Linked DNA regions of Homo sapiens: region 1 is linked to region 2. Evidence: fine-mapped expression QTL. A gene starts in region 2. The other region holds a variant in brackets. All regions are shown on one strand. Distances are from middle to middle. Region 1 overlaps DPF3 (double PHD fingers 3). Region 2 holds the start of DPF3 (double PHD fingers 3).

The links. PIP is the estimated chance that this variant, and not a neighbour inherited with it, causes the effect.
Region 1: its variant is fine-mapped to the expression of DPF3 in aorta (GTEx, PIP 0.96).

What each region holds. Positions count from the first base shown.
Region 1 is chr14:72,807,127-72,810,027 of GRCh38, forward strand. The region is part of intron 1 of DPF3 (double PHD fingers 3); the gene reads right to left. Among named protein-coding and RNA genes, the nearest start is that of DPF3, 86 kb to the right of the region's middle. RefSeq lists an enhancer at 2,688-2,901. The variant C/T (reference allele first, on the strand shown) is at 1,611.
Region 2 is chr14:72,892,701-72,895,601 of GRCh38, forward strand. DPF3 (double PHD fingers 3) reads right to left here and starts at 1,401. Exons shown (of 11, transcript NM_001280542.3): 1 at 1,357-1,401. The coding sequence starts at 1,388. RefSeq lists an enhancer at 1,361-1,655.

The DNA of each region.
Region 1 (2,901 bases), 86 kb before region 2:
CACAGGGTAGATATCTAGGGACCTTGAAGCAAACATTTCACCTATTCAGGACACAAACTAAATAAGCTTGTGTCGCTTAGTAATTCTGTAATGTCTTACTTATGCCCTTGGGCAAACTCCTTAAAATATTTGTTTCTGTTTTCCCATCAATAAAATGAGAATTGAAGCACCTATTTCTTAGGATTATTGTGAAGATTTGATGAATTAACACTAGGAAATGTGCCTAGCACTGTTTAATATGTGGCAGAGGCTCAATAAATACATTATTATTATTATTACTATTATTGACAGGTTAAAGGCCTGTGATGATACTGACTCCAGCATAACTCTGATACTGCCCCTTTGACTCGGCTAGTTTTGACAGAGGGCCCTTTGACAACACCTAAAAAACAAACCACTAAACTTTCAGTTTTTAAAAAAATACCAGGTAAGCTGGGTACAGTTGGCTCACGCCTGTAATCCCAGAACTTGGGGAGGCCAAGGCTAGAGGATGATAGGAGGATCTCTTGAGGCCAGTTTTTAACAACCAACTCTCCAGTGAACTAATCCATTCCTGCCAGAACAAATCCAGTCTTACAAGAGTATGAATATTAGAGCTACAAGGTACCGCCAAGAGACAGGGTTTTGCTTTGTTGACCAAGACCAGCCTGGTCAACATAGGAAGACCCCATCTCTACAACAAATTTAAAAATTAGCCAGGCTTGGTGGCACATACATAGTCCTAGCTACTCAGGAGGCTGAGGCAGGAAGATCACTTGAGCCCTGGAGTTGGAGGCTGCAGTGAGTTATGATCACGCCACTGCATTCCAGCCTGGGCGACAGAGCAAGAACCTGTCTCTAAAACAACAACAACAACAACAACAAGTAATGTGAGAAACAAATGCCCTCCCTCCCTCCCTGAGGGTCACCCCCAGCCTGACCTGATGGATGGGAAAAGATAAGCTCAGAGATGGGGTAAGGATAAGGTGGGAGTTAGGAATGGGGTAGAGGTCAGGGATGGACTGAGAACTAGGAAAGGGAAGGATCAAAGATGGACTGGAGGTCTGGAAGCAGGAAGAGAGAAATGGAGTAAGGGTCAGGGCTGGAGACCAGCAGAACCGAGGTGAAATGTAGGACCATCTGATGGATGGTCACATTAATAACTTTAATTTTTCACCACCAGCTCCCACTACAGCATCCAAACATCCTGCTCTGAAGGAGTGGGAGCAGGGACAGGGAAGAAGAAGAAACCTTAACTGAGTGAACATTTTAAAACAAGCAGGACATTTCGAACTCAAATAGTAAGAGTCACTTTGCTGTCCAAATCCCACCAGTCCTTGGTGTAATACTACAAGTGGGACTTACAAGCAGGACCCGCAAGAAGGTTCTAGTAACTACCTCAGCTTGCAGGACGTAAAATGCCTGGCGAACTTTGCATTCCAAGGACAGGAGTCTTCCAAATTAAAATTTTAATAGTGTGTGAAAATAGTTCGCCATTTACTCTTAGGATGAGGTAGTGTTTAGAAAGTCAGCCTGGAAATCCAGGCCAACATTTTCAGGGATGCCTCCTATTCTGGGAGGAGAAAAACCAGCTTGTTGCTTCCCTCCAGTAGCACAAAGCAGCAGGGAAC[C/T]GGAAAGAGAGAGGGGTCTGAACAGCTTCTTCTACCAGGAAACCAGCCAAAGGTCTCCGGGCATGTAAGGACATCTGTTTTCAGAAGCTATGGTTTGGATTTTGGCATTCTTAGGAGTCTAGGAGCAATCCTACTAATTTGGGTTCTAGCTCCAACCATACTACCTACCTGCTGTGCGAACCCAGGCAAGTGATTTTACCTCTCTGAGCCTCTGTTTGCTCATCTGGCCCTCTAGACAAGATTAACTTGGCAGTGCCTTGTAGCTCTAATATTCATACTCTCATAAGACTGGATTTGTTCTCACAGGAATGAATTAGTTCCCTGGAGAGTTGGTTGTTAAAACACCAGGGCCCCCTTGGGTTTCCCCATCTTCACACGTGTCTACTTTCCCTTTGACCTTCCCTGCCATGTTGTGATGCAGAAGGAAAGCCCTCGCCAGAGGACAGGGCCATGCCCTTGAACTTCTCAGCCTGCAGAACCATAAGCTAAATAAATCTCTTTTCTTTATAAATGATCCAGTTCCTGGTATTCCATTACAGCAACACAGACAGACACTCCCACATCATCGTCACACAGGGCTTGGGCTGCCTGGCCCTGGCCACTGCCTGCCAACACCAGGCCTGGTCCCTCCATCATCTAGGACCTTGGGGAACATGGCACCGGTGAAGGGCATGGGGGTTACCAGAAAGAGTGAGAAGTCGGCAGGTCAGCACGGCCACACAAGCCACCCTCTCCCAACTTATGTGCAGGCATGATGGCTCCCCATCCACCAGCACTCCTGAGGCCACTACACCAGGGAGGAAAGAAGTGCATGGGGAGGCCTGGTCACACCTGCCCTTCCTTTCAGAACCCTGCATGTGGCTGATGGCAGGTCCTCGGCGCCTGGTGGAAGAGAAAGGGAAGGTGGCACTGGGCTCCACAGGCAGTGATTCTCAGCCCTGCTTGTCACTGGGAGCTGGTTCCTGGGTCCCACCCCAATCTCTTATGATTCCATAGATCAGGAGGAGACCCAAGAACCCAACTTTTCACTTAGCTCTCCAGGGAATACCAATGCAAACGGCCACTGACCACCCCTTGAGCGCCCTGTGGATGAGAGGGTGGAACTAGAGGTTCTAGAAGCAAGTGCTTGAGTCCCCTCACTAGCTGAATGACTCTGGGCAGTTTACATCTCCTTTCAAACCCTCAACTGCCCATCTGAGAAATGGGGATATAAAAGCGTCTGCTTCTTGGGGTTATTTAGAGAAATACATGAGAAAAAGGATGGAAAGCACTTAGCACTGTGCCTGTACAT
Region 2 (2,901 bases):
TCGGCATGAACCGCCCCCCACCCGACCTGCACCTCCCTCTGCCACTTCGCCTGCGGCTTCGTCCGGGCGGGGAAGTCCCGGTCGAAGGGGTGAGGACCCCCCAGCCCACCTCGGATACGGAGGGAGCCACCCTCTGCCGACATCACCCAATAGCACCCCTTTCAGAGCGACACTAGTTTTCCGAGGCCACCCCTGGCTCCGCGATCGCGAGCGGACTTGGCGGCTTAACAGTTCCACTGACTGGAAGGAAGGAAGGAAGGAAGGAAGGAAGGAAGGAAGGAAGGAAGGAAGGAAGGAAGGAAGGAAGGAAGGAAGGAAGGAAGGATGAAAAGGAGGAGGAAGGCAGGCAGGCAGAAATTGGCTGTTGGACCCGGGGCTGGCCCCCGCGAGTCCTCGCCCGGCCCGCCCCACTCTGTCCAGGATCTGGGCAAGCGCTCAAAGTCTCCCCGAGGCGGCCAGAGGCACCTGCCCCTCGCCCGGCCGGGAGCAGACGCTGCCCCCTCGGGCCAGGAGCCCCAAAACCGCCTCTCCGCCTGCCTCAGCGCCTCACCCAGAGGTGGCGAGAACACCATTCATAAGACCTGCGGCTTCCCTGCCTCCAAATCCACCCCAAGTTAACCCGAGTCGTTAATCCACTAAAGCCAGCTCGCTCGCAAATACACGAGCAGACACACGCTCGATCGCCCGGAGCGCCTCCGAGATCCGGGGGCTGCCGGGGAAAGCCCGGGGCGACCACCTGGGCCCCAGCACGCCCGGGACCCGCTGCTTCCCCCGCGGTGCTCCAACTCCGGAAGGTTTGCACAAACTCCCCGCGAGCGATCGGAAGGCGAAGAGCGCCCTGCAAACTCCGGAGCCTCCGCGGTCCGTCCGCTGGACCCAGCGGACCCAGCGGCGGGGCGGGGGCCGCGGGCTCGGGGGCGCGGGGCTCGGCCAAGTACACCGAGGCGGCCACTGCCCGACGCTCGCCCCCCGCCCAGCAGCCCCCGAAGCCGCGCTCCCTGCCCGCGAGGCGGGGGACTCCGGGGACCGCGCCGTCCCCGAGCTCCCGCGACCCTCCTGCTGTAGAGCGCTCGAGCGCCGGGCTTCTCCGCCTGCAACCCCTATATCTGGCTCTCTCTGCAATTTAGCAGAACACAAATGTAACAATTTTCTTCTTGTTAATTGCATCTCCTGACATTTCTGCGCGTTGGGGGAAAAAAAGAAGATGAAGAAGTAAGAGCTGAAAGAAGAGAGAAGCCCCGCCGCGGCTGGAGGCGCCTGCAAGCGCAATGCTCTGGCAGCGCTCGCCACGCAGAAGGCGCCTTTTTTTTCATATTGAAACCACGCGGAATATGTACATTTTTTAGTCTTACTTACGCTTTCAGGGGGTTGTGAATGACAGTCGCCATTTTGCTACAATGTAACAGAATATTGTCTCAGAGTTCTAAAGGTTCGCTCAGGGGAAGCGACGGGCCAATCACAGCGCGGGATACCGGCCCGCCGGCCAATCGGCGCTGCTGGTAGCTAGGTGGGCGGGGCCTGCGCCGTGGTAGTTATTAGGAGAGCTGTCAAAGCCCAGAGGTCACTCCCTTTTGTAGAGCCCGAGAGCCAGCAGGTCTTAAAGGGGCAGTACAGCGCTGGTAGCTCCTTTTCGGGCTGGGGAAAGTGGAGACGCACGGGAGAGTATTATAGTTTGGTTTAACTCCCTACTTTTCTAAATAACTGCAGAAGAGTTTGCGCTCCCGGACAGAAATATTTAAATATTGCCAGCAAGCCACTGAATCCTATTCATTAGCCTTTGGCTTTGCGTATCAACATTTTTAATCCCCCAAAGGGTAAATCCCCGTGTTTCAGTGCAAAAGTTGGAAGGCTGCCGTTTCGTGTTAACAAATTACTACATGTGCTCTGCCGTTTGCTAATGCTCTGGGTCCTGCCGCTTTTTAATATTCTTATTCCCGAAGTGTTCTCTTTATCTCGGCCACCTTCCTCTCTCGCTTCTTGGAACTGTCGCTGCTGTTCCTGGCGACTCCAGGACAGCAACTCACCCTCCCCCTGGAACGTCTCAATGTCAGGCTCGCTCCCTCCTGCAGCCAGGGCTTTCCTTACGTAGTGCAGGGGGGTTACTCTGCGCGGTTCCCCGCTACCACCCCTTCGGTTCTTCCCTCTACACCAGAAACTTCCAAAATGCTCAGATTCCTGCTAGGTGGTGGGACCTGGAGCTCTGATCTTTAGGCTTAGGGGTAGGGAGGACTTAAGGCAACCTTTGGAAACTTTCTACTGCTAGGAAGCAAGTGACTAGGCAGAAGTTGTAGAGCCTGGACTGGGTGTTATCAGGGTCCCTTTAGAGGAGTGGCACACGCGATTCTGGCGTCACCTTTCACTACTTAGATAGAAGGTGGAAAGAATTTGCTAATGAATAATCCGATGTGACCCGAGGCGTCCAATGAGTCTGTGTCTGCTTCAAGTCAGTGTGAACTCTTCACTGGCGAGCCCCTGACAAAATTGGGAGACTTCTGCGAAGTCAGGCTTCCACTGGGCACCGGGAAGCTCTGGGGGGATGAAATCGCATTAAATCGCGAATAGGGTAGGGGCCTCGTTAGCATACAGAAGTCTGGCTACCATTCCAAAGCTGTTTAATCAGATCAAATAGCTAAGATAGTGGGGGAGGGGTGGCAAGGGGAGAGAAGTTGCCAAATTGCCAGTTCTTCAAAGCTATGCCCTCTCGCTTCCTTTTGCTCCTCTCAAGACAATGAATAAAATAAAATAAACATTCCAGAATTTTAAGAGTTCAACTACATACACTATTAGATTTACAGATAAACAGAACGTGGCTGAATCACTATGTTTTTAAAAGATTTGAAATCTTTAACTCCTCTCTGCGTATTTAAGAAGCAGAATTGAGTTCTATAGATTCCTTTGTAA